3 linked regions of the Homo sapiens genome follow. The protein of the gene in region 1 purifies or fractionates together with the protein of each later gene. This does not show direct contact. Each region holds a gene or a part of one and is shown in the gene's direction. Other genes may lie near its edges. The genes, in order: UBXN4, ODR4 and PPP1R7.

Region 1 (3,653 bases):
GATACAAAGGATATGCTGTTTTCTCCTAAAATCTTAGGCCCACCTAACTTTATAGTTGATAATTTGATTAAAAATAAGAAATGAAAGATACCAGAGTTAGCAATCAGTCATCCCACTCAGTAGTATTAGGAAAGTTGTCATTAAGCATTGAGTAATTCCATTCAGCTTTCCACCACTGCTGTTCAAGCAGCTGCTGCCACCACTAGGCTGAGTCTAGGACAGACACTGCCAGTAGGGTTGAGACATCTGGGACCCTAATCACATGGTACAGTATAGGTGAGGGAGTGATGCACCAGCCTCACAAGAAGCAAGATTTATACTTTCAGCTACTTACGTGATATCACTGTTTAGATCCTCCCAGGATTCTCAAGCCTAAACGTGTAAGTGCTGCCTAAACCTGTGTTTCTCCCAGTGTTCTGCATCTGATTGGCACTACCATACATCTGGTTGGATAAACCATAAATATGAGAGTCATCTTTGACTCTTAACTCTTCAGTCTCTTCTTGAGCTCCGGATTGTTCACAACATTCCAAATCACATAGGCCTTTCCCTACACACGTATTCCTTCTGCGTGGTGAACTCTTCTGGCTGTTGGCATGGCTGAGCTCTCTTATCCTTTAGATTTTAGCTTAACTGTCACCTCAGAGAGGGCTTCTCTGACCATTATAAAGAGTTCTCTTGTTATTTTCTCTCATAGATTTCTTTTTAGTAGCATTTATTACTGTAATTACGTATAGTGTCTATTTGTTTAAAAATTTTGTATACCATTAGATTTTAAGCTCTGTTGAAGGCAGACAATGTCTCATTTGGTTTATATTTAGTATACAGTTCAATGCCTAGAACAAAATAAATGCAATAAAATAGTGAACATATAAAAGAATGAATGGAAAGGATTTCTCATTCTTCACAGCCTTCTCTGAGAAGGGTTCGTAGTAAGAATATTCTCATATACTTATTTTTCTTTGGTAGGTGAGTCATTTATTTGGAATCTTAATCTCTCCTCATCAGATGGTTTCTGAAGATGCATTTAGAGTGATCTCACTTGCAAATAGTAACTTCTCGTTATTTTGCATCTTCAACATCTAGGAGTCTGCTAATGGAGCATTCTTAATGGAGCATTTGGTCTGTGGATGCATTCTAGTCCCGTTTACTTTTTTTTTTTTTTTTTTTTTGAGATGGAGTCTCACTCTGCCGCCAGGCTGGAGTACAGTGGTGCAATCTCGGCTCACTACAACCTCCACTTCCCTGGTTCAAGCGATTCTCCTGCCTCAGCCTCCTGAGTAGCTGGGACTACAGGTGTGTGTCACCACGCACAGCTAATTTTTGTATTTTTAGTAGAGACGGGGTTTCACCGTGTTGGCCGGGATGATCTAGATCTCTTGACCTCGTGATCCGTCCGCCTAAGCCTCACAAAGTGAGCCACCGTGCCCGACCCCGTTTACTTTTCCATGGTCAAATTTCTCAAACTCCTATTTCTGGTATTCCTGAATCTCATCTCACAAAATATATGCAAATAAACAGCATTAGAGTCAATTATTATAGGCATGCCATCATACTTACTATATTAGGCATTTAGCTATTCCACAGAGTACTTATTGGGTGCCTACTATGTTTTGTAGAGATTTTAGTCTTGTCAGTAAATAAAATGGAACCAATCCTTGCCTTCATGGAACCTTCATTCTAGTTAGGGGAGACAGATACTAGTAAACATAATTAAAAATGCATAGTATATTGGAAGGTGAAAGTAATACAGAAAAACAACAGGAGATAAGGGAGCTTTGGGAATGTCTCAAGAGTGTAATTTTAAAGTAAGTGAGTAGGAGAGTTGTAATATTAAAGTGGGTGATTAAGTATCAGCTTTATTGAGCTGATATTTGAGCAAAGTTTTAAGGGAGTTGGAAGTTAACCATGTAGTTATCTGGGGGAAGAACATTCCAGGCAGAGGAAACAACTAGTACAAAGACCTTATGGCTGAAGTGTCTTTCATATTTGAGGAATAGAAGGAAAAAGAATAGCAAGAAAGGAAAAAGGAATGAGGTCACAGAGGTAGTTGGAGTCCTGATGTATGGGGCCTTCAAGCGCCCTGTAAGGACTTTGGCTTTTACTTTGAGGAAAATGGGGAGCCATTGTGTGATCTAAGCAGAGGGTTGATGTGATCTTTTTTTTTTTAGAGAAAGTTGCTGTGTTAAGAATAGACTTAGCAGGAAGACCAATTTGGAGGCTTTTACTAGGCTTCCAGGTGAGATGTGATAGCTTGGATCAGGGTAGTTAGTAGTGGAAGTGGTAAGAAAGTTACATTCTTGATTTATTTTGGAGCTGGAGTCAGTTACAATCAAGGAAAACTAGTTTTTTGGCCTGAGAACTGGAAGGATGGAGTTACCATAAACGAATAACTGCAATGAGGAAGGCCAAAGTGGATTAAATTGTCCTGGCCAACATAGTGAAACCCCATCTCTACTAAAAATACAAAAAAATTAGCTGGGCGTGGTGGCGGGCACCTGTAATTCCAGCTGCTCAGGAGGCTGAGGCAGGAGAATCGCTTGAACCCGGGAGGCAGAGATTGCAATGAGCCAAGATTGCACCATTGCACTACAACCTGAGCGACAAGAGTGAAACTCCATCTCAAAAAAAAAAAAAAAAAAAAAAAAGATACAGAACGTTTTCAGCATTCCAGAAGGCTCCTTCATGCTCTATCAAGGTAGCCACTATACTGAATTCTATCACCATAGATTAGTTATAGGTTAGCATACCTTTTATAATTAGCATACCTACAATAAAAGGCAAGTCTAAAATTGCAAACAGAATTGTACCTGCCTCTGTCTACCTTGGATTAATTTTGGAGTATAAATGCTGTGGAGTGGAGATGTTGAACTCAACAGAAAGGTGCCACATAAAGGACAGATATCAAACTTTTTATTTTTCTCTCTCTCTAGACGGTCTCACTGTGTCACCCAGGCTGGAGTGCAGTGGTGCAATCTCCGCTCACTGCAACTTCCACCTTCCGAGTGCAAGCAATTCTCCTGCCTCAGCCTCCTATGTAGGTGGGATTACAGGCATGCGCCACCACACCTGGCTAAGTAGAGATGGGGTTTTACCGTGTTGGCCAGTCTGGTCTCGAATTCCTGGCCTCAGGTGATCTACCCGCCTCAGCCTCCCAAAGTGCTGAGATTATAGGCGTGAGCCACCGAGCCCAGCCCACAACTTTTATTTTAATAAAATCTTATGTACAAAAGCCCAAATAGGCACTGCACCGATGACTGCTTATTATTGTGGTACTTTGCGCATCATAATTTAGATGGCTTCTTTTATGAAATATTTTGTATCATTTAAATAGTCCAGTGTAGTTTGTTTTCATTGCTCTTCATGATGTGAACTGTGTATGCAGTCACACTTTTCATTTAGTGGAAAATTCAGTTTTCAAATTTGGCAGAAAGTGGTATAGGTGGGATTATATTTTATTTGAGGTTTCCGTTTTCCAGGGGAAAAGAGTTTGCAATCAGCAGATCCCAGCCTGGTATAAGAATTTTTGAAATGTTTTACAGGTGATGATGAACAGTCTACACAGATGGCTGCAAGTTGGGAAGATGATAAAGTTACAGAAGCATCTTCAAACAGTTTTGTTGCTATTAAAATCGATACCAAAAGGTTTGTTT
Region 2 (3,653 bases), on another chromosome or scaffold:
ACCAGCCTGGTCAGCATGGTGAAACCCTGTCTCTACTAAAAATAACAAAAATTAGCCGGGTGTGGTGGCAGGTGCCTGTAAGCACAAGCTACTCGGGGTGCTGAGGCAGAAGAATGGCTTGAACCTGGGAGGTGGAGGTTGCATTGAGCCGAGATCGTGCCACTGCACTCCAGCCTTTGGCTACAGAGTAAGACTCCATTTCAAAATAAAAGAAAAGGAAAAGAAGAAAACTAACAGAGGAACAGAAAACCAAATACCGTATGTTCTGACTTATAAGTGGGAGCCAAATGATGAAAACACATGGACACATAGAGGGGAAAAACACACACTAAAAGGAGGGAGAAGGAGAGGATCAGGAAAAATAAATAATGGGTACTAGGTTTAATACCTGGGTGATGAAATAATCCGTATATCAAACCCCCATGACTGAAGTTTATCTGTGTAACAAATCTGCACATGTACTCATGAACTTAAAAGTTAAAAAATAAGTCCAGGAAAAAAAAGAAAATGATGTAATTGGAATCCTGAAACTTTACAGGAGTGTCATCTGAATTTCATCTGATTTCCAAATTGTAAACTGCTGACCTGCAACCAAAGGCCACATGTTGTTCTGCCCTGATGACAGTTCAAAAGCTATGGCCATTTTATAAAAGAGGTTTATAGAGGCTTCTAAAATAGCTTTGACCTGAAGGAAGCGGAACTTTTGTGATCTCTCACTTTTTAAAGCAGGGATCAGCAAACTTTATGTGAAGAGAAAAATACTACATATTTAGATTTCACAGGCTGTATTTTTATCTCTACTGTGTAGCATGAAAGCAGCTACAGGAGATACATAAGTGAATGATCCTGGTTGCATACCGGTAAAACTTTATTTACAAAGATGAGTGGCAATGTGGGTATTTGCCCACAGGCAGTGGTTTGCCAGTTGTTGCTTTAGAGGAATGAAAGTATGGAATTAATTGTTTTAAAGAGTGTACATTGATACAGAATACATAAAGTAATATCTATATAAAAAGCTAAATTAAAATAATTAAAAGACTTGTTTTTTTCTAAGTTACTTAGTATATGTACAATAGTTTATAAGTTGTCTTTTATGTTTTACAGGCTTCACAGTTTGGCTTTTTAACTTTTGTGTTTTTTCAGAAAAAATCTTCTAGAGGAAATACTCAAGCAACTAGTCATTCTTTTGATGTCAGAGTGCTAACGCAGTTGGTAAATATTTTAAAATAACACTTAAAATATTTATTAGCATAACCATAATGAAACTGTTTCTGTTTTTATTTTTCTCATTAGAGAATAAAAGGATTTTAGAGCTGTAAGAGACTGTATGAAATGGCTGGTTATAGGAAGGTTATTCCCAAGAAACATCATTTTAATAAAACCTGTTTGGGTTTTTTGCCTCAAGGATATTAAAATTTTAACATCAATAGATAGCAGTTTAAAAAAATATGTACACATACATGCATACATATACATGTATGTATGTGTACATATTTTGGGTTGTAGCTTTTATAGTTAAAGTTGCAATTTTAACAACTTAAAAGATGTGTACACAGAGGTGCAAAGAGTTGTCATATGCTTATTTTGAAGTAGATTAATTAGATTTATACCCCCTGATTTGATAAAAATCACAAAGTATTAATTAGCAAGTTTTATATTTATGTATGGTTGCTTTAATTTACACGTCTTTTCGAAAATTTAAAAGTTGGATATCTTAAAGAATAAAAAGTTAAAGCCACTAATTATTCCTAAAAATACATACCTTTGATTTTAATCCTACTTGAAATTATCCTAAAGAACAGACAAGGGTATAAAATAGCAAACGCGTGTTTGTAGGAAACTTTATTTCAATATTATACTGGATTTTGAAACAGAAATACTCTCAGGACTTGTGTTTTTTTGAACTGAATAGAATAGAATTAAAAGCAATTTGGCATTTGAGGATGTTTTAGTTTCTTCTTTTTCTGTGTGTAGCAATAGCGCATTAGTAAATTGTCTTTGGGCCTATGCCACTCAATGTGAGTTCTCAATTTCATTTTTCAATACCTTAGAGGTATTTTAGTCTCTGATTTTCTACTTTGTCTTGATTTTAGAAGTGTCCTTTGTTTTGAGGCTGGCTATTCCACTACTTATGTGCTTTTCACTAGTTAGGCTTACTTCATGGTTTATTAAACAATTTGGTTAAGATTATTTTATTAGTAGTATAAAATTGTAGTTGGGAGATGTATAGAGTGTGGGAATATAGAGAGATGAGTGGAAGATAATCTCATGAGATAATTTATTGTAGTAGTAATATTATTGTTATTTTTGAGACGGAGTCTCGCTCTGTCTCCCAGGCTGGAGTGCAGTGGTGCGATCTCGGCTCACTGCAAGCTCTGCCTCCTGGGTTCACGCCATTCTCCTGCCTCAGCCTCCTGAGTAGCTGGGACTACAGGCGCCTGCCACCACACCTGGCTAATTTTTTGTATTTTTAGTAGAGACGGGTTTCACTGTGTTAGCCAGGGTGGTCTCAATCTCCTGACCATATGATCCGCCTGCCTCGGCCTCCCAAAGTGCTGGGATTACAGGCGTGAGCCACCGCGCCTGGCCAGGTGTAGTAATAATATTATATAGTATAATATATTTTTGGTAGTCACTCCACCGATCACCTAACTGGAAATTTTGAAGTGACTAATATACAGTAAGTAGTCAGTAAGTATTTATTGCCACTTTTCTCCCAGTTAAGTCTTATTGATTCCTTATTTGTAGTATTAAGCTTTTCTTTTATTTTCCATACAGTCCTGCTGTCATTAGCCTTACAACAGTATTATTTTACCTAAACTAGCACAAGTAGCCCTTAACTGGTCTCTCTTCATCTATACATTCTTGTCCAAAGTGATTGTTTCTCTAAATCCCTTCTACCTTTGTTAGTATATCTCTTGAAATACTTTCCATTTATCTACTCTATCCTGTTTATACACTCAGATGATCATTTCTGAATCATAGTTTATGTTCAGTTATTAATTTTTTTCAAGAAGTATTTATTGAGTTTGTACAACAGCCGGACACTGATTATGGTACTCCTTGCTCAAAATTTCTTAAGTGTTCTGTACTGACTAGTTAGAGAAGTCCAACTCAGGGTTCTTCATAGCCTCAGCATACCTTTTTGTTCTTATTTTCTACCTCTTATTTTCTAGATGTATGCTTGCCATACCTTTAAAGCTCTGTATTTCCTGAACTATGTATCATGTCTTTGCTCTTTTCTCTGTCACCCAAACTGTCAAAATCCTATCTGTACATTAAGATCTAGCCCAAATGCCACTACTTGTGTAAGATTTCATTTGGTTCCCATAGAAATGGGGATCTTCTCTTTTTCAAATGCCATGTCAGCATCATAGAAGTTCCCTCACCTATAGGCTGTTTGGCAGCCAGGTTATTCCTAAGTCCAAATAACCAAGAGGAGTTTACATTTGTAGACCCCAACTGGTCTACATTTCCACCTAAAAGGAATGAGTCAGACCTTACATTCTTTAAAACTTTTCCTGGCTGAGCATGGTAGCTCATGCCTGTAATCCCAGCACTTTGGGAGGCCTAGGCAGGGTGATCGCTTGAGCCTAGGAGTTCAAGATGAGTCTGAGCAACAAGTGAAACCCTGTCTCTACAAAAAAATACAA
Region 3 (3,653 bases), about 110 Mb from region 1:
TGTGTCTTTGTGCATGCGTGTGTGTGTGCATCTGTGTGTGTCTTAGTCCTTTTCAGCACACATGCTGAAGTAGGTTCCAATGAAATGAAATGAGGAAGTGCTTAACAGGGAAGCTGTCGCCTCAGCAGGGAGAGCAGCTCTCTCCCTCCTCCGCACAGAGGATGCCGGCTCCGGGGTAGAGAGTCCTCGTGAAATCCAATGGGCTTCTCTGCTGGAGTGAGTTCACCAGTCTCCCCACTGAGAAGTGTGTTTAAATTATTCAGTGAGCTTCTTTGATCCTATCTGTTGAACTATGTTTTGTTTTGTTTTGCTCTTTGCAGAGGGAAGTGTTTGTAGATGCTGGGCCACCTTCCAAAGCAATAAAAGGCCCATCCTAGAGCATCTGATGTGCCCAGCATGGTCTAGATTCTAATGGCCTGGTTTATTGCCACAAACAAAAAGAGAAAAGCTACATGGGAGGCAGGCTGCTGCCAGTTCTGCAGCTCTGGGAGTCACGGAAAGGCAGTAGTGCTACCCTGCTCACCTGCACTCAGCTACTTCCTCCCCTCCTTCCCACTAACAGGTTCAAAACACATTTCCTTTCTCAGGAAGTTCAAAGGCACAGATGGATGTTTGGTGACCTTTGCCAATATCTGAATTCAGGAAATTCAGAATGCTTAAAACATCACTATTGTTGGAGCAGGGTCTAACCCTGCCACATTCTCCAGGTCCTCAGCAAACCTTCCCATTGGTTCCTCCTCGGGGTTTGAGCTGGCTCTGGGCACCAAACAGCCCCAGACCTCAGCCAGAAGCAGCTCTTCACCAGTGCCTCCTGTTAATGGGGTTCTGAACAAATCTCTTTTTCTTATTTTTTCAGAAGAACATGAGCTGCCTGTGGACATGGAAACCATCAACCTGGACAGAGATGCAGAGGTAATGCCGCCTGCTCAGCCCAGCCTTGGGCGTGGTGATGGACCACCCTGTCAGGTTATCTTGTATGAGATTAGTAAGTTATTTCCCTAGAGAGGTGGCCTAAGCCTCCCTTGGTTGAGTCAGAGTCCCGTGTTCATGTTTTTCTTACCAGTGATTGTTATCCCCATGTCTATTCGACCCTTGAGGATTGTGTGGCAGATGAGATGCCTTTGACTCATACATTGTCTGGGTCTGATGATTACATTATACATGAGGGTCCCAATGGCCCCAGGCTGTGTATGACTGGCCACTGGGCCTCCTGAGCCCACAGCGTGTCTCTGATGGTGATGGGATGGGGTGCATATCCTCAGAACCTGAGCTTATGTTTTGTGCATACAGGATCTAAGGAATGAGAAAAAGATGTCATGTACCAATCATTTTAAGGGCCAGTTTTACATAAAACTTAGTCATCACTAAGCCAAAGAGCCCCCGCAGCACACCTTGTCACTGACATCTGTCTGCTGCAGACCCACCTGGCACTGCCTCCCCCACTGCTGCCCACTTCCAGGCCGCCTCTTCTAGGACGACACAGGTCTCCAGCCACTTTGCTATAGCTGAGTATAGATTTCTGCTTTGTTTCAGGATGTTGATTTGAATCACTATCGCATAGGGAAGATTGAAGGATTTGAGGTACTGAAGAAAGTGAAGGTGAGAGGGACTCTTATGAGGGGACTATGACGCTCACCCATAGGATGTGGATAAGTCCAGAATCGAGCAGTCAGTCCTGAGTTGTGGTCCTTGTCCCAGCCTGTGGGCGGCGTGGCTGCCTCCACCTTGTAGCAGGCCTTTCTTTACTGGGAGCACAGCAGGTGTGAGACAGCAGTCGAGGGACTTGAGGCACAGCCCTGGGGCTGGCTCTCCTGAGCCCAGGCAGCCAGTGACCTGTGACTCTGGCCTGCCTCGGTTTCTGTGCCTGTGTTCAATTAGGCACTCGCTGACTTTTACAGTCCTCCGTGCCTCTCATTGGAATTTGTCAAAATTGAGCCCACCAAAGGTTCTTATGTTCTGCCAGGAAGTGGCAGACACCCACACCCCAGGCCAACGCCTCCCTCCCCAACTGGCCTGCTTGGTGGGGAGCCTGCCTCCTGCCTCCCTTTGGGTTCCCGCCCTTCCTCAGGTGTGTTAAGGAATTATAGCTTAGTGCCCTTGCCCACCTGCCTCTCAAAGGTCAGCACCTTTCTAGGAAACAGCAGGAGAATGAAGACATGTCCTTCTACCAGAAAGGCCTTTCTTGTGTCCTCCAGTATCAGCTGAGGCCTTCTCGTGGCCTCCCCCTTGCCTGTGTCAATTGTCCCTTTTCCCATCCCCCAGACTCTCTGCCTCCGCCAAAATTTAATTAAATGCATTGAGAATCTGGAGGAGCTACAGAGTCTTCGAGAGCTGGATCTTTACGACAACCAGATCAAGAAGATTGAGAATCTGGAGGCGCTAACAGAGCTGGAGTGAGTCATGAGACCCACAGGAGAACAGCATGGTGGGAAGGCCACTGGGTGGGGGGTGTCCAGTCTCCAGAGCCAACCTCCTGCTGGCTCTTAGCCCTTGAGAGGCTGCCTCTGCCACAGGGTCCTGCCCTGCATCTGAATCCCAAGTCTCTGCCTCCTGTTTTCAGGGCTCCAGGAGGCCTCATCGGCTTCATGCATGTCTTTGGCTTCCTGAACAATCCTGACTTCCAAAGTAAATCTTTGATGGGAAGGCTGCAGTGGGGACTTCTGGAAAGCCTCCATTCAGGGATGATACTGAGATCGGTAGAGAGGAAAGTTAATCCAGAATTGCCTCTTGCCTTTTGAATACTCTTTTTTTTAATTACAAAAAAAAGTGACATTTCTAATTTAAGGAGTCAGGTCCTAGGCCAGGTGCAGTGGTGCATACCTGTAATCTCAGTGCTTTGGGAGGCCAAATTGGGAGGATCACTTGAGCCTAGAAGTTCGAGATAGCCTGGGCAACATAACAAGACCCTGTCTACAAAAATTAAAATTAAAATTAAAAAAGAAGGAGCCAGGTCCTAGTTATAACTTTACCTGGATTTCTGCCCTTTGTCGCTCATTCATTTTTGCTTGTTTTGTTTCTGTTTCTAATTCAATACTTCTCAGGCCCCTTCTGTGTGCAGAGCCTGGTGTGAGGTCCTGTCATGGGCACAAGTGTGAACAAAACATAGTTTCTGCCTCAAATACCATACTGGGAGCCAGGGCATCAGGAGCCTGTAGGCTGCCTCTGGCTTGCTCCGGGCTCCTGGGCAGCCTCCAAATCCCTCATGACAGCATCAGTGTGAGCCAGGCGGCAGCAGGGGCACAGTCAGAACCCCCCACCCTCTCCCACCCGGTAGTGACTGCCGTCCCCTGATGGGGACGCCACCTTTAGTGGTTAAATTGTGAGTTCTATGCAACCTATGCTCGTGAAATTTTTTTAAAAAACTGTTTTGGTTGTTCTCAGGATTCTAGATATTTCTTTTAATCTGCTGAGAAACATCGAAGGGGTTGACAAGTTGACACGACTGAAAAAACTCTTCTTGGTCAACAATAAAATCAGTAAAATTGAGAACTTAAGCAACTTACATCAACTACAGATGCTAGAGCTGGGATCTAACCGCATCCGGGTAGGTGCAGACAGCCCTGACTAGTATATTCAGGGAGAGGCAGCTAGCGGGCTGTGTGTGGACTCAGTGGGTGTATGTAGAATGCATGGTGAGTCTGCATTTCTTACAA

The links.
Region 2: the proteins of UBXN4 (region 1) and ODR4 purify together in Homo sapiens (affinity purification with mass spectrometry, with the first as the bait; one large-scale study listed by BioGRID). This does not show direct contact.
Region 3: the proteins of UBXN4 (region 1) and PPP1R7 purify together in Homo sapiens (affinity purification with western blotting, with the first as the bait; one study listed by BioGRID). This does not show direct contact.

The regions. Positions count from the first base shown.
Region 1 is NC_000002.12:135,744,725-135,748,377, forward strand, and holds part of UBXN4 (UBX domain-containing protein 4), read left to right. Parts: intron 1-3,542; coding exon 3,543-3,645; intron 3,646-3,653. UniProt on the Homo sapiens protein: Involved in endoplasmic reticulum-associated protein degradation (ERAD). Acts as a platform to recruit both UBQLN1 and VCP to the ER during ERAD.
Region 2 is NC_000001.11:186,392,804-186,396,456, forward strand, and holds part of ODR4 (protein odr-4 homolog), read left to right. Parts: intron 1-1,143; coding exon 1,144-1,212; intron 1,213-3,653. UniProt on the Homo sapiens protein: May play a role in the trafficking of a subset of G-protein coupled receptors.
Region 3 is NC_000002.12:241,156,951-241,160,603, forward strand, and holds part of PPP1R7 (protein phosphatase 1 regulatory subunit 7), read left to right. Parts: intron 1-856; coding exon 857-912; intron 913-1,533; coding exon 1,534-1,599; intron 1,600-2,262; coding exon 2,263-2,393; intron 2,394-3,381; coding exon 3,382-3,544; intron 3,545-3,653. UniProt on the Homo sapiens protein: Regulatory subunit of protein phosphatase 1.